Homo sapiens: one gene and its partners. The protein of the gene in region 7 purifies or fractionates together with the protein of the main gene of each other region. This does not show direct contact. Each region holds a gene or a part of one and is shown on either strand. Other genes may lie near its edges.

Region 1 (3,226 bases), about 40 Mb from region 7:
GGTGAAACCACATAATCCAAGGGCAATTCTCCCTTAGCATTCCTCTGTTGTAAAAGCACTGGGCCTGTGAAAAGAAAATGCAAAATGTTGCAAGTAAAACATTTCTATTTTGGCAGCTTAACAGCTCTTTTCTCCTTTTTCCCAAAGCATCCAGTGCTTTCTTTGCAATCATATTTTGTATTAATTCATGTCGACACAATTAACTGACTATATATATAGACGAATAAAGGTACATTAAAAAAATTCTAGTCAATTACCTAATAAGGTTTCCCCAAACGTGCATGCCTCCGTTAAATAAATAATAAATACAACTACAAATAAAAACTTTTATAAAACTTTATCAACTGTCATTTTAAAATAAGAATTTCAGTGTTCCCAGAAGAAATCTTAAAAATGTATTATTCATCTTATAAATTCTATACAAGAGCCTCAGGGGTATCTCAAAATATCACCAAGAGGAAAAAGTAGTGCCCCTTTCATTGCTAATAAACAATTCTAGCAGTGCAAAGACTACAAAACCTTGCACAGATAGAGAACAGTTTTCATATTACCCTTGCTTGTGTTCAATGTTTAGTACAGGTAACTGGTTCACACAAATTACATATTAATTCTTCTAGATCAAACTCAGATCTCATCCATCTATACTAGTTAAACTCATTTAACTACCTACTTAGAAAGTACTAAAGATAGAGTTTATCCACTAAGTACTAAAGGATGATGTGGAGAAGGCAAAACATAACTCAGTATTTGGTTACATAGCAAAGTATAGGAGTACTTTTGCCTTCATCAGTCAAGTCTTATAATTATTTATGCACTTGGCCATAAAAACGTTACAGGGGATATAAAGATTTTAGTACTAGCAGACATAATCACTAGGTCCTACAATTATAACATAGATCATATTGTCAGAAAGAGAGAACTGATTATAACTGCTAAAATTCATAATGATGACTCTGATCAGACATACATAGTAGCATAGATATAAAATGTACTTAATATAAAAGATCAACCATTGATAATATGATTAATGTATAATTTATGGAAAGAAGATAATTCTAAAACAAAATTAGGCTCCTTTTCACTGTGCCAACATCTCAAAAAAATTGTTCCAAGTTACTTCTGTTTAAAAAAAAAAAAAAAGACAAAATTACGGACACAGGATACCAAAAGTAAACAAACGTTTTAGAGAAATAAATAAATTCTTGAAATTATTGCTCTTGAGGCTGAGTGACTCACAATGAATAGATAATGCAGTTACTTCAATATAAGTGTCAAACCACTTGACAGGTCCAAACCCAGAATATGACTAAGGCAGAAACAAGTCTGTACGACTGCCAAAGGACCTTGATAAAAACAAAAACAATTAGATTTCCTCTTCTAGGAGGAGAAACTCATCTCTTTACTATTCTCCACTAAGAGCCCTAGAAAAATTCACATTGGTTGGTATAATGCCATACTCTACTGAAGAGCTGGACCTAATACAATAATGGCTCCTAACAAATATTGGCCTGAATGCCAGACACACGGCTGAGTAGAAAAATAAAACATTAAGGAGGTAGAACTTATGGTTTAGTAAACACAGAATACTAAAAAAAACAAGGTAGAAGAACTGAAAAACATTGACTATGAAATGATATCAGTAAAACAGACACACTAAGGCCTTTAGGGGGCAGGAGAAGACTATATATAACCAAATGTCTTAAACTCCCATGCTATACAGCCTTCCTTAGATGCATATATACTAAAAAGACATCTTAAGAAAATACGCTTTTTGTCTTTATGCACAATCAAATGTTTTAATTACAGGATAAGATAATGTTAAATTTAAATGTAAAATTAATACAAATAAAAACGACAAGTAATTTCTACAAATCTTTGTTTCCATATTCTAAGCTGGTCATCAGTTTTCTTTTTTTCTTTTAAAAGCACCAATCCGTTTTGAACATTTTGTTGTAAAATTTATATTATTCAGTTTAGATATAAGAAGAATGACACTGAAATAATGTGGGGCCTTGCTGAAAGCAAAGATCAAAAATCAGCAGGAAAAACGCAGATGAATATTCAGCTCAAGTTACCTCCTTCACAAAACCCCTGCATAACAGTTATCACCATTTGAAAATCCTCCTGCTTTAACTTAATTGGCTGCAAAATGTGAATGACGAAAAATATTCTAGGATATCATTTTTTTACAGTCTGTACAGAAATGACTCATTAAAAATAAGATTGAGTTTGTAGTTACATACAGGAAATGAAAAAATCCAGGTAATCACAATTGAACATTTATATCCATTTATCAATAAGCTTTCAGAAATGACTGGCTCACAAAGACATTACACACCTGAAGGAAAAAGATAAATATTTAAAACCAGCAAACTCAATTCAAAAACAGACTCTCATACACGAACCTAAATAGGCTTAATAATATATACATAAACAAATATACATTATGAAAAGGATTTTATCTCTAATAATAAAAGGTGCTTACGTTTTAGGAGACTTTTTATCCTTACTTTTTCATTAATATGAAATAAAGGCATCTTTCCTTACAGATTTTAAACATAAAATGCTATCTACCTCTGCAGGATTCATCAAAAAACTGGATAATTTATCAAAACCCATTTAGCATAAACACACTCACCCCCATGCTGTAGTAGCAGCTTGCCAATTTCTACATGTCCGTTTGACAGTGCATCATGCAAAGGAGTCACCCCGTCCACTTGAGTGAGCAGATCTACCTCTGGACAACGTTGCAAAATTTCCTGGACACACACTGTGTTGCCATAGTTACAGGCTTCATGCAAAGGCGTCCAGCCAGCATTGTCTAAATTAGAAATCAAGGCAAGTTTTAAAACAGCAGAAGTAGGACTTTTGGTAGAAAAGTACTGATGTTCTACTTTTCTCATCAGTGTGACTTTCTAGGTGCTTCATATACAAAAAGAATGCTGTGATAAAAATGTCTAGGGTGTAATCATATTTCTACCTTAAAAAATTAAAATAAAAACAATTTTAAAATATTAATGTTGGGTATTATCAAAATATGGACACCAAAAAATGTTTTTATACCATTAGTTATAAATCAATATATGAGAAATTTCTTGGCTTTGCTAAGAAATTTTTCTTATACTTTTAAGATACCTTAGGTAAATTTACTTAAATAATTTTTCTTAATGTGATATAAAACTGTTTAATATCACAAATATTAAGACATTGGACTAGACCACAAAGA
Region 2 (3,500 bases), on a different chromosome or scaffold from region 7:
CTAATTAACAAAAATAACAATCTTACCTCATTTTCAACCTTCTAATTTTGTCAGTAGATTTATTACATTCTAGGCTATTACTAATTCAAACTTAATGAATGGTCATCTGAATTATATGTTACTGAATGTCCTTTCTCCCACGGAAACAAATTTTGTGTTAGTTCTTTATAACTCCAATTTAGGAATTCTCCTAAATTCTTAATCTACCATAAGCTTTTGCATATATTAATATAAATTTTTTATAACAAACTTTTTTTTTTGAGATGGAGTCTCATTCTGTCGCCAGGCTGGAGTGCAGCAGCGCGATCTCAGCTCACTGCAACCTCTGTCTCCCAGGTTCAAGCAATTCTCCTGCCTCAGCCTCCCTAGTAGCTGGGACTACAGGCACACGCCACCACGCCCAGCTAATTTTTATGTTTTTAGTAGAGACGAGGTTTCACCATGTTGGCCAGGATGGTCTTGATCTCCTGACCTTGTGATCCACTCACCTCGGCCTCCCAACAAACTTTTAATTACATCAGAGATGTAGTGTAACTATATATGTGACTAAAATTGCTCCTTATACAGGTACCAACGGATGACCTCCTAACTAACAAATCAAATAGGATGGCCAATCTTATTGAACTCCTGTAGCACTTAACAATTTTGATAAGTTTCTTGCTTTCTGAACTTCCTCTTGTGACTTCTCTAATGCCACTCACCCCAGTTTTTCTCTTACTCTGCTCAGCCATCCCTTCGTCAGTCACCTTTGTAGGTACCCCTTCCTCAGTCATTCCCTTTAATGTTTTTCCCTTAAGTTCTACATTCAGTCTTCTCATTTTCTTACTGTAAACCTTCTCCCATATACAAGGATTTACTACTACCTAGCTGCTCAAATCTGTAGCTCTAAGAATTCTCCCTTAAGTTTTAAACCCTATATCTGACTGGACACCTTCACCTGGGTGTCCCTCTTAAACTTAGTAGCGTCCAGAACTGAACAGATCACTTTTACTAATGAGCCTGGGACCCCTCCTACACTCCATTATCTTGGTAAAAGGAACATTATTCAAGTCAGAAATCAGGGCACCATTCAAGACATCTCCCTCATTTCTCACATCAACCTGATGACTGAGTCTAACAACTTGTACCTGCTAAATATCTCATACACATCTCCTCCTCTCTTTATTATCATCACTGTCTTAGTTCAGACCCTTACCACACCTGCCCCACTAGATGACTAAGTAGCTTGCTCTCCCAATTTCCAGTCTTACCCCACTCTAATCTACCCTCATGTAATTACCCTATATATTATTCCTCACTTAAAATCCTTCCACAGTTTCCCTGTAACCATTTATACCCTGTGCGAGTTAACGATACATGGTTACCTTCTTAGCCTTATGTCCTACTACTCCCATTAACACCCTGTGTACCTAAGATAGTATCTGTTACACTATGTTAACACTACTAACAAACTATCTGTTTACCAGTCTGTCTCTCCATTATAGTATCAATTCCTCGAGGTCAGGAAGTCCAACACCAGACACAGATATGTCTAGAAAACTGCTTGACTGACACCCAATGAATGAGAAACGGATCAATCAAGTAAGATCCATCTTAGGCTTGCTTCCACTGATCATTTAACCCATAACTGCCTATATTTAATTTTAAAAGTAACTAAGAAGATGAAATTATCCAGAAAATACCTCTAAAGTACACTTCAAACTGCTAAATAATGTATTAGTCATACTGCTCACAACAGTAGTCCAGATAACTCTGTTGACAATGATTTTTACCTATATAAAACAGATTGAGATGATAAAGGTCCTAGGTTCTTAAATTAAGATAATATTGATGTGATCTCTTTGGACCCTCCCTAACGGGAAATGTGTACCCTTCCCCTATAATTGTTGCTTTGGTAGACAAATTTGTCTTAAATAATAAAGAAATTAAAACAATGAATATTATTTATAACCTCAGAGAAGTGAGCAATGACTATCTTGAATTTGATCTGAAATCTTTTTTTTAAATGTCCTGGGTCTTTTAGCCTGTGTACACTCATTAGAAGGCATGCTCTTTTTTTTTTTCTTTAATAAACACTGAACCCTTTCCAAGAGTTTGACAATTATGCAGAGTTTCAATCTCTCAAGATTCACCTTGTCATGTTTATGACAGCAGGGTCAGCAATGTTGACAAGGCTCTTGGGAAACAATTTGTGACAATGCACAGTAACACAACTCTTCTGGCAAACAATGTACCACTAAAAAAAAGAACCAAACCATGCTCATAGTCCTTGACCCACAAACCCCACATAACATAGTATATATCTTGAGATTTTAAAAAAATCCCATTTTTTTTTCAAGAAAGTCAAAAGATGAAAAAAAAGTTTATAAATATAATTTAACAACAAATTATAAGCAACCTAAAGATCCAAAAGCTAGAAGCATAAGTTAGTCAGAATGTGTTTTAAAACATCACTTTTTAAAAATCAGCAATCATATATTAATAAAGATTAGAAAAGACCAAAAGAAACTAAAGCAGTTGGATTTTTATTTTGAGAAATATTTTAAATATTTTTAATATTCTCATTTAAAGCTGAACAGTTCAACTTTAACAGTAAGAGAATTATTAGATCCCTACAGCAATAAAAGCAGTAGCAATTTTTCCAAAGAGACACACAGGTTTAAGGTAGTAATTTTACATTGGGGTCAGAAAGTCTCACCTGTCCATCAATAAACTCAATACATCACATGTACAAGCACTGACTATGCTCCATTCCATTTATGTTACAAACTAATCAGCTATGACTGTTCCTGTTAAACATCCAGGTGATTATCCTCAAATGACCAAAAGGAAGAAAATATCAAATTTTCAACTATACACACGTTTAAAACATTAAAAATAAAAATTACCTTTCTTCTTTGTCCAATGTTTTCTTCTCTGCTGCAGTGACTTTTTTAGGTGGTACAGGAGGGGTCACTTTTCTACATATCTCTTCAATGATGCGTTTGTTCATTCTACTTTGCGATGCAGCTTTTAGTAAAATTCTTTCCACGGCAGTTATACCATCTCCATGACTGTATTTAGGAATTTCTGGTTGGATTAAAATTTCTATGTCATCAAGCCAAGGAGGATAGTAGGAGTTTTGTTTTCCTGAGAGTTTGTGGTGAAGTTTAATTAGCAAAGACAATATGCTTTCTTTAATTTCCAAAATGGCTGTAGTTAACTGTGGAGCTGAACCAGGAGCAGACCATTTACTTGAAGTTTTGGGACGAACCACCTGATTTGCTTCACTGCTACTGCGATTGATGATTTCCTGAAATTTCTTTCTACGTTCTGCTACTAAACTGAAAACTTGAGCTGTACCAGAATTCTACCATTAACAAAGAGAAACAAAGAAAAATCAAGAGAAGTTATTTAGCATCATTTTAAAAACATATTAGTACTATATTTTCTAAAGGGAATGCTCAGTTTCATACAAAGATTTATTCAATAGATTTGCTCTTTAAATAAATTTCTCCCTT
Region 3 (3,500 bases), on a different chromosome or scaffold from region 7:
CACTGCACTCCAGCCTGGGCAACTCTGTCTCCAGAAAAAAAAAAACCAAAAAACAAACCCTAACGATTGTACCTTAAGGTTTTTGCTTTTGGTTACTTTAAACAAGATTGTATGTTTTCAGACAGATCACAGACTATATAAAAATAACTCATTTCACAAAAAAATATTTTAATTATACTCTCACATAACCTATCTTAAATTTACAATAGACATTATTTCCTTTAATAAATCCTAATGGATAAAATCTCTAACTCTAAACTATACACGCTATGTTACAGCAAGTCTTATTTTAACTAGCAAGGTTTTTGGGAATAAAAACCTTCACAATCCCTGATTTCTCACTTTTTATATTGTATCTGCAAGTCCTTTCATACATTACTTCTGAACGAGCATTTTTCAATGAAATCCAAGATGCTAAGAAATCTAGTAATTACTGAAAAATGCTGTGATGCCAGTAAAGCCTAATCCTAAGGTAAACAAACGCACAAGTTCCACATTTAACTTGCTTTGTAAAATGCAAGTTACAAATCATAGCATATAGGTTATTATTAGTAAAGAAAATCATTAAATCTTAAAATGAAAAACTGGGAAATTTGAATTCAGTAGTTCAATGCATATAGTAAGTAACCTGCTGTAATCTTAAGTTTTTTACATGCTTAGAGCTTAGATAATCCAACTCACTTGCATTTGATTTTTGATAATGGTCTTGAATTTATATACATTAATTTTTTTCTTTTTTTTTTTTTTTTTTAAACAGACGGGTCTCACTCTATCAACCCAGGTTAGAGTGTGGTGGCACAACCACAGCTCACTGTTAACCTCAAACTCCTGGGCTCAAGCAATCATCCCACCACACCCAGCTAATCAAAAAAAAAATTTTTTTTTTTTTTAGTAGACACAGGGTCTTGCTATGTTGCCAAGGCTAGTCTCAAACTCCTGGCTTCAAAGGACCTTCCCATCTCAACCTCCCAAGCAACCAGCATTACAGAGATGAGCAGCTGTGCCTGGCTGAATTCTTTTTTTTTTTTTTTTTTTTGAGACAGGGTCTCAATCCGTCTCCCAGGCTGGAGTGCAATGGCACAATCTCAGCTCACTGCAACCTCCACCTCCTGGGTTCAAGTGATTTTCCTGCCTCAGCCTCCCTAGTAGTTGGGATTACAGGCACTCGCCACCGCAACCAGCTAACTTTTGTATTTGTAGTAGAGACAGGGTTTCACCACGTTGGCCAGGCTGGTCTCAAACTCCTGACCTCAGGTGATCTGCCTGCCTCGGCCTCCCAAAGTGCTGAGATTCCGGCGTGAGCCACTGACCCGGCCTGAATTCATTTTTGGATAAAAATCCAAAGGAGTTTATAATGCCTGCAATAAAAATCATACATATACACTTTTAACATCTTAGTGCCAAACACATCATTAGCAATAAAAAATAAACACCAGAAAACAAATTATAATGACTAAATATCTCACTATAAAATGAGGAAAAATCACCATTTTACGTTTTTTGAAGAGAGAATATCAAAGATGTACTCTCAATTCCAGAATGGAGATATACCTCATATTATTATTTCCATATAATATAAAGGAATATGGCAGCCAGGTATGTTAGAGATGGTAGAGACAGGAATGGAATCACAGTATTAGCTGGAAGACTCCAGAAGACGACAATCAGCTAGAAAGAAAATTGGAAAGTGGGGCCTAACTTAGCAAGTGATTAGATCAGAAAAACATCAAGTTTCTTGCAAATGAAGCTAAAGAAACATCAGGAAAGATGCAAATTTTTAAAAACGAAAAGCTAACAAGTACCTGGAGTTCATACAGGTAGAAAAATGAAAAAATCAAAGTGAAGAAAAAATGGGTACAGAAAAAGTAAGTGGCTAAAACACCACTAGCTCTCAAGAGTCAAAGCATTTAAGAATAGCTTCAAGGCCAGGATCACATCTTGACTCCCAGGAGTATCACACAAATGTTGGCACACAGTAGATGCCCCAGGTTTGTTGAATGAATAAGCAACAGAATGTTCTTGGGATTACTTCACCTGTAAAAGAATTGGCTGAGCAAGGTTTGCTGGAAATGATTGAAAGCATTTATAACTGAAAAACTGACTTCTTGCATTTGGGGATAAACTGGATCATAGTCACTAAAATAAGAGCCTATTTGTAAGAAGATGAGGTGCCATATCCTATTTTGTTACAATCACCAAATTTTTCAAAATAAATACAGTATAGTACAACCAGTACCTGCTCTCCAAGAGCTAACATTAGAAATGAAATCCACTATAGAAGAGTGGTTGATAGAGAGTACCATCTCAGGCTTTACATAATACTATGGAAAACTTACCCACAAAACTGATAACTCTAAAAGCTTAATTTTGCAACCCAATAACTTGTAACACTTTAATAATCAAATACACCTGCTACTACTGTTACAAAAATGTGGTTTATCTGCATAAATAGCACTAAGCTATAACTACATTCAATAGAGAACTACTTTCTTCTCATCCAAATTATTCAATCCCAGTGCAATCTTCTGACTGTATTTTCTCAAACCAGTAATTATGTAGAGGAAGCCAATGTTTCTCAGTATATGATCACACTGAATAAAGCTGATTTCTATCCTAGGTGGACAAAAGGGGCAAGATGCAAGGTATTTTTTTTAAAGTAAGCCAAGTATTGAAGAACTAGCTGCCAATAGGGGCAAAAAGTCACATGGTACTTTACTGAGTTTCCTTGGAAGCTTTTAATATTGTAAATCTGCTTAAGATATGTTATCTACTTAAGCAACATGTAGGAGAGAATATAGGTGTCTTTACTGAAATTGCTTTGTTCCTTAATGCATGCTTTTGACATGAAATGTAATTCGGGCAAATTAAGTCTGAAAATAGTTACTGAGAATTGGTTTTGTTTACTTATTCTCAGACTCCTACCACAAAGAGCTTGAGGCAAACTTATAATTGAAGGTACAGGACTGTGCAAAAGAAATCAGACTAACTTTTAAAAAGAATATTTCAATGAACCAGGTATAAAAATCACATCACCAAAACTGGAGAATACTGAAAATGTTTACAACAAAAAGCAAGAATGTATTTTCTAAGTCATAAATAATTTTTTAAATCTGGGAACTATCCTGAAAAAACATAATGAGTTTTTAAATTCATAGTTTATCATTGTAATTAGAAAACAGATTTGAACACCTTAAAAAGTAACAAACTGAAGCAACAATAAGGATCTCAAACTGAAATCTTTAAAAGGTCAAAGTTCCTTTCTTGGAAAAAAGTCCTGCATTTTTCCCATCCTTAAGAAAGCATGTTTTAAACTATATTCATAAATGCATTCCCTTATTATTAAACACTAAAGTCCGCTTTTTTTTTTTTTTTAATGGAGTCTCACTCTAGCACCCAGGCTGGAGTGCAGTGGCACCATCTCAGGCTGACTGCAACCTCCACCAACCAGGTTCAAGTGATTCTCCTACCTTAGCTTCCTGAAGAGCTGGCACTACAGGCGC
Region 4 (3,500 bases), on a different chromosome or scaffold from region 7:
CTTACGTAGGAACAGCACAGGACTGAACCTGATAAGGTCCATCTATCTGGAAAAGGCAAAACAGAAAACAGCTCAGTGGTTACGGGCACTGGGCTAAGGGCTGACCTTGGGGTAACAGAACTGTTCTCTACATCAATTGTGATAGCGGCTACAGGATTGAATTCATGTGATAAATACAAATCACAGACCTCTTCTCAAAAGGGTGAAGATTTCTGCACGTAAATTACAGCTCCACAAAGAAACACAGGATACCACTGAACACCCACCAGAGTAGCTCCAGTCAGGCTGCCAAGCGTTGGTTGCCAAGGGTGTCATGCAACGGAAGCAATCATACAGTGTTGACGGGAGTATACACTGGCACGACCCCTTTGGAAAATAGTTCAACATTTTCTACTAACGTTGAAACTATGCACACACTGTGGCACTTCCACTCCTGGGTTTACACCCAGAACAGGCGCACGGACACCAGAAACACACGCGGGATCCCTCACACGGCGTCTACACAACAGCCAACCTGGACACAAGCCACATGTCCATCAATAGCAGAAGAGATCACACAGGGGAATACTATACAGCAAAGAAAATGGACGGCTGTTACACACCACGGGGCAAACCTCACAAAATGCCCACCAAAGACACAGACATGAGGGAGTCGCCATGGTGTGATTCCACTTAGAGAATGTTCTGAAACAGGCAAACTAGTCCATGCTGTTGGAGGCGGCCGTCCAGGGAGCAGGGGAGGGTGGACGTTGGCAAGGGCACCGGGGCACCCGGGACGGTCGTTTTCCACCCCAGGAGGGGTTTGAGTTGGCCACCCCACAGTGCTGATTCATACAGTTAGCATTTATGCCTGTGTGCTTTTCCATCTGAGTTTTGAAAAGCTTTAAAATTAGCACCCATTGTCAGGTTAGGACTGTTCCTGCTCTAGGAACAGGGTTCCCTGAAAAGGTGTCCTCAAGGCCCTGCTCCTGGAAACAAGGATTAACGCGTGGGGAGCAGGTGCTTCTGGGGTTCGCTGTGCGGAGTCCAGGCTGTTCTGAATGCCCCTGACGCATTGAGACTCGTTCTGAGGAGGGAGTCGTTTCTTTAAAAAATATGGACCGGGCATGGTGGTTCACGCCTGTAATCCCAGCACTGTGAGAGGCTGAGGGGGGCGGATCTCCTGAGCCCAGTTCAAGACCAGCCTGGGCAACATGGTGAAACCTCTTCTCCACAAAAAATACAAAAATTAGCCAGGAGTGGTGGCACGCACCTGTACTCCCAGCTACACAGGAGGCTGAGGTGGGAGGATCTCCTGAGCTCGGGAGATTGAGGCTGCGGGGAGCTGTGATCGCACCACTGCACTCCAGTCTGGGCAACACAGCAAGACCCTGCCTTTAAAAAAAATTAAAAATTGAAATTAAAAATCAAAAAAATTAAAAGTATGTACTGAATGCCTTCTGCAGGGGCTGCGTGCCAGGGACAGAGGAGCCCCATTCCCTCTTCCATGTCATATGTGACGGGGGAAAGGAATGTGGGTCAGCAGAGACCAAGGCCAGAGAGGTGCTGACACTAAGGGGCTGGTGGGAGGGATGCTGTGGGCCTGAGTGGTGGCTGCGGCCACCACACTGACTGTCCTCGGCACGTGCTAATGGGGAAGGGGGCCTGGGAGGGGCAGGTCCTCACCTGCCATGGGCTTCACCTGCACCAGGTAGCCGAGGCCGCTCCCCTCCGACTCTCTCCACTTCATCTGCAGCCGGTCCTCAGGCAGCACAGCCAGCCTCAGGAGACCGCTTGCTACAGAAACAGGACATAGTGGTCAGGACTGACCTGGCCTCCCCATCCACCTAATCAGCTGTGGGGGTACAGGCATCCTGCCCTCAGCATTTGGGAGGAACACAGTCCTATCCCGGGGGACCCCGAAGAGACAGAAGCCCACCCAGGGTGTCTGAGGCGGACTCAGCCCCACTTGGGGATACGAGGCCTCGCCTGGGCGCTGAGGAGAACCCGGCCCTCCCCGGGGTCCGCAGTCACAGGGCCACCCTGGTAGCTTTGGTGAGAGGGAGTCCAGTCCCACCCAGGGAGGCCCCAGCCTGGCTCTCCGGGGGTCCTCCCACCAGGAAGAGGCTCAGGCCCATGTCTGGGAGGACAGCAACCACCCCACTGATGATCGGAGGCCCCGAGCCAACACAGCAGCTGGCAACCTGCCCAGGGCCCTGAGCTGAGTCCCCTGAGCTGGGGCCCCTGGGCTGAGTCCCCGGGCTGGGTCCCCTGAGCTAAGTCCCCTGGGCTGGGGCCCCTGGGCTGAGTCCCCTGGGCTGGGTCCCCTGAGCTGAGTCCCCTGAGCTGGGTCCCCTGGGCTGGGTCCCCTGAGCTAAGTCCCCTGAGCTGGGGCCCCTGGGCTGAGTCCCCAGGCTGGGTCCCCTGAGCTAAGTCCCCTGGGCTGGGGCCCCTGGGCTGAGTCCCCTGGGCTGGGTCCCCAGGACAAGTGGCCATGCAGCTGCAGACCCCTAGCTGCCAAGGTCACTGCCAGGTGCACGTGCCGCCTCAGTGGGGAGTGTGGGTGCAGAATCCCACACTGGAAGTGTGTGCACATTGGCACGTGTGTGCACGTTGGTACATGTGTGCGTCCATGCCAAGACGAGGCTGCCTCCCGCGATGGGGGATGGGTGTCCAGGCCATCTGAGAGGAAGAGGGGGCGGCAGGGGCCTGGCCAACCTCCCAGGGCTCTGGAGAGGGTTGGTGCCCCCTGAAAGCTTCCGGGGCTCTGCAGTAGGGGCAGCTATTTTTGGAAAATGGGGACAGAGATGGGCTTCTTTGGGCTGCCCCCCGGAAAGCTGGGGCTCGGGGGGAAGAGCAGGGGCTGGGGGGCACTGGGGCAGACACAATGACCCATTCAGAGCAGGCAGCAGCTGGGCCGGGTCTCCGGATGGGGCTGAAAGGCAGGAATGTGTGGGGGATGAGGAGGGGGCTCTGAAGGCCAGCTGTGAGCAGGGCCCCTCCCGCAGCCCCTGCTTGTGAAGAGCCTTCTGTTGCTCCACTCTGCCTGAGAACGTCAGGGACCCCTTCCCCAGCTCCCTGCTGGAGGACAGCACTGTTGGGGCCTGAGCAGGGCACTGGGCAGACAGCGGCTGGTGGGAAGGGCCCCACCCAGGACCACGCTCCCCTCCCTGGACTGTGGCCGCACCCAGCCTGGGCCATCCTGGGAAGGGCTGCCCCAGCGTGTGGGCTCCCACCCGTCCTGGGCTGGACTCAGTGCCCCCAGCCCACCTGGCTGTCCTCAGGGACTCAATGGCCCCCGAAAGGCCCTTGTGAGGGGTGGCCCCATCATGCTGAATCCTGAACTAGATAGAACTAGATTTGCCTTCGCCTAAACTCAAGTTGTTTCTGTAGAAGCAACTTACTGATTTGGCTCAAATTGACAGTGCAAGCTTCTTTCAAACTGAAATCTCAGCCCCCACTGGCCCCAGGGCAGGGTTACCCTGTCTGAGCTGAGGGGACCAAGGCACCTGCTCATGCAA
Region 5 (3,500 bases), on a different chromosome or scaffold from region 7:
CTGGGCTGATGGCAGTAGGCTGGGGTCCAGGGCAGGGGCCTGGCGGCTAATGATGGTGAGTACCTCAGACTGCAGTGGAGGGCTGGCACTCTGGTTCTTGCCCCCTCATGCCCCCTCTCCACCCTCTCTGTTCTTTCCTCTCCTCCCAGGGAGCTTCAGGCCATGGAGGCCTTGCAGAATGGCCAGACCACGGTAGAGGGGAGCATAGAGGGCCAGTCGGCTGGGGCTGCGAGCCATGCCATGATAGAAAAGATCCTCAGCGAGGAGCCTCGGTGGCAAGGTACAGGCATCCACACCTCGGCCGCGCCCTCCCTATAATCCTGCTCATAGCTGCCCTGGGGATTTGGCTCACCACCACCTACTGCCTGCTCTAGCCGAGGCCCCGACCTGGCCCGCATCCCACCCTACACCCACCATTCAAAAGGCGCCTCTAGGGGCGTTTTCCCTGACACATCATGTTCCCAAGATCCCTCCAGGCTTTCACATGTGCACAGGCACGTACATAAGCGCACATGCAAATGTTTTCCGCCCTGCAAGAGTGCCCTTTCACCCTGTGAGCTGTGAGTGTCTCTCTGATGGACAGCATCTGTTGTCCTTGCTGCACCTGGGGCTGTCCCATGGCCTGGGAGGAGGGGCCCTACTCACATCTGGCAGGGGCCTCCTGTCTTGAACTCCTTCCCAGTGGCTTCTCCTTCCCTCCACTCCAGTCCTGCTAGTCTTGGGGTGCTCCAGCTCCTCTCACCTGACCCCTGCCCTCTGGCCCCCTGTGCAGAGACTGCTTATGTGCTGGGGAACTATAAGACGGAGCCTTGCAAGAAGCCCCCGCGGCTGTGCCGCCAAGGCTATGCCTGTCCCTACTACCACAACAGCAAGGACCGGCGGCGGAGCCCCCGGAAGCACAAATACAGGTCCTTAGGCCCCAGGAGGCCAGCCACGGGAGGGAGGAGTGGCAGGGAAGGGGTCAGGCAGAGGCTGCTCCCACTGGCTCTCCGGGAGGAGGGGAGGCTGGTCCTGGGGATGACAGGATCGCAAGCCCAGGGCCCAGGGGAGGGCATAGTGAGGATAGCTGGACAGTAGGAGCCCAGCTTCACCTCCTGCATGAATGAGGACCCTGGTCAGACCGTCTCTGAGGCTCCACCGCTCCTGATCCTGAGGGGAATGTGTTGAATGAGGACCAGGCCACAGCGTGGACAGTGTGGTTGTAGCTCCAGCCTGACCCTACTTGGGCTAGTGGGAGGGCCTGGCTGAGGGGAATCAAACAGTATCCTTTGTGGTGATTCGGCCAGGCTGGGTCAGAGAAAGAGCTTGGCTTGTGGCACCAGCAAGGCCCTGACTCTGCAGCTGGTCTTTTCCATTTCTGTGCTCATGCCTATGAGGCTGGGTCCAGGTGGCACCTGCTAGGCTCCGATCTCACCTTCTCCTTTCTCCATCTGACCCCACCCTCTTGTTGGCCAGGTCGTCTCCATGTCCAAACGTCAAGCACGGGGATGAGTGGGGAGACCCTGGCAAGTGTGAGAACGGAGACGCCTGCCAGTACTGCCACACCCGCACCGAGCAGCAGTTCCACCCCGAGGTGGGCCCCACAGCAGGGTGGGGGGGTGGCTTTGGGAAGTAAGGAGAGAGGCAGGCAGGATCAGTGGAGATGTTGGCAGAACCCATCCTGATGCCATCCTGGAAGAGGGACTTGTGGCCACCAGCTCTCCCCTGGCAGTGCCTAGAGGATCCCTGCATGCTGAATTTGGCATCTTCTCCTATTCTGAGCCCACGCTCACCAAGCAGCCCTCTGCTTCCAGTTCTGTGTCCCCCAGGCCTCCTGACAGGGCAGGTGTAGATGGAGTGTGGCGACCTGGCCACTCTGGGCTTTCCACCACTCATGGTGCTTGTAATCCAGTGACATCAGGATTGAAAAAATAGGGCCAGGCACGGTGGCTTATGCCTATAATTCCAGCACTCTGGGAGGCCGAGGTGGGTGCATCACTTGAGGTCAGGAGTTTGAGACTACCCTGCAACATGCTATCTCTACTAAATGTACAAAAATTAGCCAGATTTGGTGGTGAGCGCCTGTAACCCCAGCTACTCGGGAGGCTGAGGTGGGAGGATCGCTTGAACCCGGGAGGCGGAAGTTGCAGTGAGCCAAGATCGCACCACTGCACTCCAGCCTGGGTGACAGAGCGAGACTCCATCAAAAAAAAAAAAAAAAAAAAAAGGATTGAAAAAAAGTAAGCTCCTTCCTGTTGCCCTGTCTCCTATCAGGGCCTAGATTATCAGCAACCTCCCTAACACAGTTCCCTTGCCCTCTGGCCCCAAGAGGTAGCCTGGGCCATATCTGTGTGCCTAGGTCTTGTCTGGGGTTCAGAGAGGCACCTGCAGTCCCTGCCCTTGGTGTTCCATGGAAGCCAGGACACCCTGAGGTAGACACGCGGACAGAAACTACCTTATGTAGCTGCAGACAGCAGAGTGGAAGGTTACTTATATAGGTCACAACCCAGGGTATCCTGACAGGGTTCACATTGGCAGGGGTAGTTGCCTGAGATTGTGGCTCCCTTAATGCCCAGGAGGCACGCTTGGAGGCACAGACCTGGCCATGCCCGTGAGTGGAGAGTCACTGGGGGATCCCTTTGGGAGGGCTGGTGGGACCTGTGGCCCCAGAACGGAGGCTGTCAGTGACAATGGGGAGTGGTGGTGGGCTGCCTCAGGAGTTTGAGTAAGAAGCTGGTAGGGAGAGACATAGTGGAGGGGAGGGGAGGGGCCGGGAACACAGGGCAAGAGATGACTAAGCCAGCGCACTCATGCTGGAGGAAGGGGAGCCTGCCCGGCCTTCCCTCAGGGCCTGAGCCTGACTTGCCTGTGCTCTGCCCTCCAGATCTACAAGTCCACCAAGTGCAACGACATGCAGCAGTCGGGCAGCTGTCCCCGAGGACCCTTCTGCGCCTTTGCCCACGTAGAACGTATGCTGTTCCCATTGCCCCGGGGCAGTGCCCTCTCCCACCCCTCCCTCGCCTGGCTAGCTCAGGCTTAGGCCGGGGATGGCCCCTGGCAGTATGCCCTGCACAGGAGTTCTGGCCTGCCAGCAGCAGGCCTTGTCCCCACTGGAAGCTCCATTCCCCCACCTTTCTGGAAGTAGCCTTGAAGGCCTAGAGCTTCCAAAGTAGTGAGATAGAGACTGCAGGGATTGTCCGCCTGGTTGAGCACTCATGGTTCCAGGGAGGGTTGAGGCACTGTGCCTCCCATGGCTGACTTGGCAAATCCCACCAGCCACCCCATGTCATACCCATGACAGACATCACTAATGGAACATGGAGCTCTTCTCTGCTGAGTCCTGCTCAGGCCTCTAGAGCAGAGCTAGCCAGTCAGAATATAGTGCAATCCCCATATGTCATTTTAAAGTTAAAATATTTAAGCATGTTAACAAAAATAGCAAAATATGAAAATAAGCTGGGCATGGTGGCACACGCCTGTAATCCCAACTACTCGGGAGGCTGAGGCATGAGAATCACTTG
Region 6 (2,501 bases), on a different chromosome or scaffold from region 7:
ATCCTGAGGTATAGGCAGGAGCCCTGGCTCAGGCTGAGTCATCTCAGGACTCCTGTCCTTCAAGAAACCTTGTCTTCACTGCTTCTTCCAACCTCCTTTTTGCTCCCACAACCTGTGCAAACATCATCACCCTATTTCTCACACCACAGGAACAACAAATTTATCTTTACTCAATTTTTGAAGACAAGAAGGGAACTTTATCTCTGCATTCTCACCTCAATGGCTAATATAGCACATTTAATAATACTTGTTGACTACAATAATTAAAGCTCTTACAAACCACTACATAAAAATATTAGTGTTAATTACTGAATTACTGAAAATAAAAATACATGCTGGTACCTTAGTTTTCTTGCATCTTTAAAATAAACACTCCACGAATCTGTAAGAATTATAAAAGTCTTGAGGCTTAATGTAGGATTTTTCAAATATTTGCATAATTTATGCTACACTGCCATGCACAAATATATCGAACAAAAAAAGACACGAAGTTACCCATAAAAGTTGGTAAAAGAATTTTATTATTATGTGGCTTAGGTAGGTTTTTGCATTCTACTAACAGAAAAGCATTTTCCACACCTTATTCAACCTAACACATTATACATTTGTGATTTTATCTACATCGCTGCAGTATTACACTATTGAAAACCTTCCTTTCAAATGTACTTTGGTGCAATTATACAGTAGATATCTCTGCCTTCAGAAAATAAAAATATTCTCAATCTAAACTCAAAATGGAATAAAGACATCAATACCAAGTTTGTGCACCACTTGGTAAAAGATTGCAATAAAAATCAGAAGAGTATGCTGCTTAACATATAAAGAAGATGAGACATCTGCCACAGTTTCAGTCAAACCTTTGTAGGAATGATTTAGCATCTGGGTTTATTTTTACTGCAGTTTTCACATATGATAGGTGGAATTGTACCACAAAGAATAGTCTCATTTGCACGAGAGACTCAAATATTGGACTCTAGCACAGGAAATGTCTCTTGGGGCTTAGTAATATACAAACTGATAGAAAAGAAAATTGCCTTAAGAAAAATTTCACAATTGACTAAACATCTGAAACATTTTTATCACAGCTTTCATATATTAAAAAAGTTTCCTCCAGAGATGAAGCTTATTGATGAAATAAAACCTAGTCACTATCATCTGACCCATGTTCTGAGCCTCTATCTGAGGCCTCATTGTTGGATCCCTCTGGTTCCGATTCATTTCCAGAGCCTTGGCCAGAACCCTCATTATCAGATCCTCTCTCCGATTCGTGATCTGATTCGGCACTTGGAGAAGCTGGGCGAGAGTCGTTCTCAGAAACTCCTGAGTGGCTTCTCCCTGACTGCACAGATTCATTGTCAGACTGCTCAGAACCGGAGGGCCTTCTCTTTCTGGATGGCTGGTCACTGTCTGAGTCCTGATCTGACCGCTGTCTTCGTGGCCTCCGGGGACTGCCGGCCTCGCTGCCAGACTTGTTCTGGTTCTCATCGGAATCACTCTCTGATGAGGCACATTTCTTTCGTTGTTCGTCCTCGTCTGAGTCACTGTTGCTGTTGCTGTTCCTGGGATGTCTGGCAAAGATGATCATTGGTTAGAAGCTGAGGATTCTGGCTAACTGGGGCCTTGATGAGCAGACAATGTGCTTTTAAAACAGAAGGGCATTTAATATTCTATTTCTTGACCTAAATAGTGGTTACACAGGTATCATTCTGTGATACTTGTTTTGTGTACTATTCTGTAAATGTGATATATTTCACAACTCAAAAAGGTTTAAAAAGGAAAAAAAGATAAGGCACTTTAGCTATAAGTCAAAATATAAACAGGGATGGTGACTCACTGGACACTTTTCATCAGAATGAAGCATTTCCCAATTTCATATATAAAATTATGAAAAGGAAGGGATACATTTGTTTATCTCTGTACACAAATTAACAGCAACAAAGGTGAAATCCAGGATCTCAACTGGCTTGAAGACTTTGAAGAATTAACCCTTTTCCAAAGGCAGAAAAGGGTTTCAAAGGACATTTCCCTGTCCTATTGCCATCGGTGCTAACAGGTACCTGAAGAGTGAGGTCATTATTCCTGTCCTAAGATTTGCTACTGCACTAGGTCCCCTCCACCATGACCAGACTTGCTCAAGATAGGGAACTGGGGCTAAAGGGGCCCTTTGGTTTATTTCCCTTTGCTCCCAAGCTCTCCCCTCTACTTGTCAGTTGATAAGTGAAAGGAAAGGGGAAGTCATGCTTATGCTTAGAATGGTGGCAGCACCCTCAGAGTCTTGGCTTCCTGGAGGCTCTGAGGAAAGAACATTCCCTTAACCACGGTGACCGCTCCTTTGGAGCAGGCACACTTCTCTGGCACGTTCCTTAGTTCTGGTTTTCATGACAGATATTCCAATAAAGGAATACTGAATCCCACAGAGTTCGGTCTAGGAACGGTGAGGGAGGTGAAATATATTACTCTCTTTCTGTATACATATTAAAGACCTGTGGGTCTTCCCTGGG
Region 7 (3,500 bases):
TGGAAAAAATGGCCCATTCCTGTAATCACAGTGCTTTGGGAGGTCAAAGTGGGAGGACTGCTTGAGGCTAGGAGTTCAAGGACCAGCCTGGGCAACACACAGAGACTTTGTGTCTACAAAAAAGAAAAAGAAAACAAACAAAAAAATTAGCTGGGCATGGTGGTCCACACCTGTCGTCCCAGCTAGTTAGGAGTCTGAGGCAGGAGGATTACTTGAACCCAGGAGTTTGAGGTAACAGTGAACTGTGACTGTACCACTGCACTCCAGCAGGGGTGACAGAGTATAACTTTGTCTCTGAAGAAATAAGAAACAAACCAAAAATCCACAACAAACCCAGCACTTTGGGAGGCCAAGGTGGGCAGATCACAAGGTCAGGAGATCGAGACCATCCTGGCTAACATGGTGAAACCCCGTCTCTACTAAAAATATAAAAAATTAGCCAGGCGTGGTGGTGGACGCCTGTAGTCCCAGCTACTCACAAGGCTGAGGCAGGAGAATGGCGTGAACCCGGGAGGCGGAGCTTGCAGTGAGCCGAGATCGCGCCACTGCACTCCAGCCTGGGCGACAGAGCGAGACTCCGTCTCAAAAAAAAAAAAAAAAAAAAAAAAAAAAATCCACAACAAAATACGTGGCTCACATGGACATGGAAGCAACACCTACAAGTGAGCCCTAACAGTAAAAAGTAAGGTGAAAGAGCTAAAAGGAGGGAAACAACTCTTTTCCCCACTATCATCTGCAAAATCTATAAAATGCTACTTACCATTTGGATGAAACATTTTGGATAAAAACCTAACAGTTGGTGGTTTATTTGGATATTCTTCAGAAAATTCTATTACTAGTTTAAAAGTACCTAGAGAGAAAACAAAATAATTATAGTAAAGACAAGCACGACTTTTTAATCTCTTCATCAGTTCTCAACTGCATACTGGTTTTTGTACAACCACATAAAAGTTAGTATGTCAACGTTGGTTCGGCATACAAAACATCCTAAATATACTCTATTTATGTTAGAATGGTAACACGCAGCATTGGCAAGCGGTTGGGGAACAAGCACATTCATGTTGCTATTGGTGGGAGTGTTAACTGTCATATTTTTGGAAGGCAACTAGGCCCTAGCTACCAAGATTTAAAATGCATATTTGAAGAACTACAAATAGTTTATTATAGCTTAGAATGGGAGTTGGTTAAAGGATTTTGAGAGGGTCTGACTACCACATGGCAAAGGACCCTCCCAGGAGGTGGAGGTTGCAGTGAGCCCAGATCATGCCGCTATGCTCTGGCATGGGTGACAAAGCAAGACTCCGTCTCACACACACAAAAAAACTTTAACTCAGAAAATCTTCATTAAAAATAACTGTAGCCAGGTGGGGTGGCTCACGCCTGTAATTCCAGCACTTTGGGAGGCTAAGGTGGGCGGATCACCTGAGGTCAGGAGTTGAGACTAGCCTGGCCAACGTGGTCAAACTCCACCTCTACTAAAAGTACAAAAATGAGCTGGGTATGGGGGTGCCTGTAATCTCAGCTACTCAGGAGGGTGAGGCAAGAGAATTGCTTGAACCTGGGAGGCGGAGGTTGCTGTGAGCAGAGATCGCGCCATTGCACTCTAGTCTGGGTGACAAGAGCAAGACTCTGTCTCCAAAAAAAAAAGGTAGGTTAAACTGCAAACCCATTACACAGAATATAAATTAAAATTATATTTCTCCCCAAGTTGGTGATAAGTGTAAGCAATGTTTTACATATTTGCAACTGTCTCTTTAATGACTGGCTTAACAGAAGATAGCTGGATTCTCTTATCTGCTTCTGCACTCCATCTATTACAATACCGTTTAGTTTAAGTACATGAAGAAAATCTGGCCTCACACAAATATGTACTTGAAAAAAGGAGTACTTTCTTTCTTTCTTCCTTTTTTTTTTTTTTTTTTGTTGAGACAGAGTCTCACTGTTGCCCAGGCTGGAGTGCAATGGCACCATCTCAGCTTACTGCAGCCTCCGTCTCCTGGGTTCAAGCAATTCTCCTGCCTCAGCCTCTGGGGTAGCTGAGATTACAGGCACGTGCCATCCCGCCTGGCTCATTTTTGTATTTTTAGTAGAGACGACGTTTCACCATGTTGGCCAGGCTGGTCTTGAACTCCTGACCTCAGGTGATCTGCCCACCTTGGCCTCCCAAAGTGCTGGGATTACAGGCATGAACCACTGCACCCAGCAAAAAAAGTAGTATTTGAATAGCTTTTTCAGGTGACTGTAGCTATTCTGTTTTGATATTATACCAAAGAAGAAATGGTAGTTCTTTTAAAGGTTTGCTGCAATATAGAATCTGAAATTATTAGTCAACTTTTTGTACTCAGTTACATTAAAATCTGTTCACTTCACATACGTGTTTTACCCATTCATGGTTTTGTATTATTATTCATGGGACATCTGCAAAATATTGGGTGACTCGAGTTTACAGATCCTCCAAATGTTGCCATATTCCATTATATACTATCAAAAAAATCACAACAGGTAACACTACCCACTAATCTCATCAAAAAGTAAGTATCAGGAAGCTGTTATTTTATCAACAGCAACAAATATCTTCAGTTGCTATCCTTAACCTAACAACCCACTTAGATCCCCCCACTGTTTTTTTTTTTTTTTTTTGAGATGGAGTCTTGCTCTGTTGTCCAGGCTAGGGTGCAATGGTGCGATCTTGGCGCACTGCAACCTCTGCCTCCCAGGTTCAAGCAATTCTCCTGCCTCAGTCTCCCGAGTAGCTGGGATTACAGGTGCCCGCCACCACACCGAGCTTATTACATTACTTCTGAGAATATGTCTGCCATATATTCAAACCTGAATAACCACAGCTTGTCTGTATTTTCAAGTAAAAAATGTTCCATGAAAAAAAGTCATTCAAATTGCAACTCAAACAACTGTAGAAGTGCTTTTCTTCCAGACAACTATCATACTATGACATGCAGAAGTGCTTTGTTCATACATTCTACTTCATATCATACAGAATATTAAAAAGACAGATACTCGGCTGGGTGTGGCTCATGCCTCAGCACTTCGGGTGGCCAAGGTGGGCAGATCACCTGAGGTCAGGAGTTTAAGGCCCCAGCCTGGCCAACATGGTGAAACCCCATCTCTACTAAAAATACAAAAATTAGCCGGGCATGGTAGCACATGTCTGTAATCCCAGCTACTTGGAAGGCTGAGGCACGAGAATCACTTGAACCTCGGAGGCGGAGGCTTCAGTGAGCCAAGATTGCGCCTCTGCACTCCAGCCTGGGTGAGAGAGCGAGACAAAAAACAAAAAACAAACAAAAAAAACCCACATAGATACTCAAGGGTCCAGAGCTTCCTAATACTAATAAAAATGTCTTTAAATTAAGAAATTAAGAAAAATTGGTAACTTTTTTAAAGACAAGGTCTCACTCTGTCACCCAGGCTGGAGCTCAGTGGCTCCACCAGGGCTCACTGCAGCCTTGACCTCTTGGGCTCAGGTAATCCTCCCAAGTAGC

The links.
Region 1: the proteins of UBE2B (region 7) and SLF1 purify together in Homo sapiens (affinity purification with mass spectrometry, with the first as the bait; one large-scale study listed by BioGRID). This does not show direct contact.
Region 2: the proteins of UBE2B (region 7) and UBR3 purify together in Homo sapiens (affinity purification with western blotting; 2 studies listed by BioGRID, with this or other methods). This does not show direct contact.
Region 3: the proteins of UBE2B (region 7) and WAC purify together in Homo sapiens (affinity purification with mass spectrometry, with the first as the bait; one large-scale study listed by BioGRID). This does not show direct contact.
Region 4: the proteins of UBE2B (region 7) and COL20A1 purify together in Homo sapiens (affinity purification with mass spectrometry; one large-scale study listed by BioGRID and IntAct). This does not show direct contact.
Region 5: the proteins of UBE2B (region 7) and UNK fractionate together in Homo sapiens (co-fractionation; one large-scale study listed by BioGRID). This does not show direct contact.
Region 6: the proteins of UBE2B (region 7) and CTR9 purify together in Homo sapiens (pull-down; one large-scale study listed by IntAct). This does not show direct contact.

The regions. Positions count from the first base shown.
Region 1 is NC_000005.10:94,691,669-94,694,894, reverse strand, and holds part of SLF1 (SMC5-SMC6 complex localization factor protein 1), read right to left. Parts: intron 2,822-3,226; coding exon 2,639-2,821; intron 2,339-2,638; coding exon of another isoform or gene 2,331-2,338; exon of another isoform or gene 74-2,330; intron 65-73; coding exon 1-64. UniProt on the Homo sapiens protein: Plays a role in the DNA damage response (DDR) pathway by regulating postreplication repair of UV-damaged DNA and genomic stability maintenance.
Region 2 is NC_000002.12:169,949,454-169,952,953, reverse strand, and holds part of UBR3 (E3 ubiquitin-protein ligase UBR3), read right to left. Parts: intron 3,350-3,500; coding exon 2,889-3,349; intron 1-2,888. UniProt on the Homo sapiens protein: E3 ubiquitin-protein ligase which is a component of the N-end rule pathway. Does not bind to proteins bearing specific N-terminal residues that are destabilizing according to the N-end rule, leading to their ubiquitination and subsequent degradation.
Region 3 is NC_000010.11:28,536,118-28,539,617, reverse strand, and holds part of WAC (WW domain-containing adapter protein with coiled-coil), read right to left. Parts: intron 1-3,500.
Region 4 is NC_000020.11:63,296,186-63,299,685, reverse strand, and holds part of COL20A1 (collagen alpha-1(XX) chain precursor), read right to left. Parts: intron 1,777-3,500; coding exon 1,666-1,776; intron 1-1,665. UniProt on the Homo sapiens protein: Probable collagen protein.
Region 5 is NC_000017.11:75,812,306-75,815,805, forward strand, and holds part of UNK (RING finger protein unkempt homolog), read left to right. Parts: exon of another isoform or gene 1-55; intron 56-149; coding exon 150-280; intron 281-772; coding exon 773-908; intron 909-1,455; coding exon 1,456-1,573; intron 1,574-2,524; exon of another isoform or gene 2,525-2,584; coding exon of another isoform or gene 2,585-2,590; intron 2,591-2,863; coding exon 2,864-2,948; intron 2,949-3,500. UniProt on the Homo sapiens protein: Sequence-specific RNA-binding protein which plays an important role in the establishment and maintenance of the early morphology of cortical neurons during embryonic development.
Region 6 is NC_000011.10:10,777,746-10,780,246, reverse strand, and holds the end of CTR9 (RNA polymerase-associated protein CTR9 homolog), read right to left. Parts: intron 1,569-2,501; coding exon 1,142-1,568; 3' UTR 501-1,141; downstream 1-500. UniProt on the Homo sapiens protein: Component of the PAF1 complex (PAF1C) which has multiple functions during transcription by RNA polymerase II and is implicated in regulation of development and maintenance of embryonic stem cell pluripotency.
Region 7 is NC_000005.10:134,378,069-134,381,568, reverse strand, and holds part of UBE2B (ubiquitin-conjugating enzyme E2 B), read right to left. Parts: intron 851-3,500; coding exon 761-850; intron 1-760. UniProt on the Homo sapiens protein: E2 ubiquitin-conjugating enzyme that accepts ubiquitin from the ubiquitin-activating enzyme E1 and transfers it to a E3 ubiquitin-protein ligase. In vitro catalyzes 'Lys-11'-, as well as 'Lys-48'- and 'Lys-63'-linked polyubiquitination.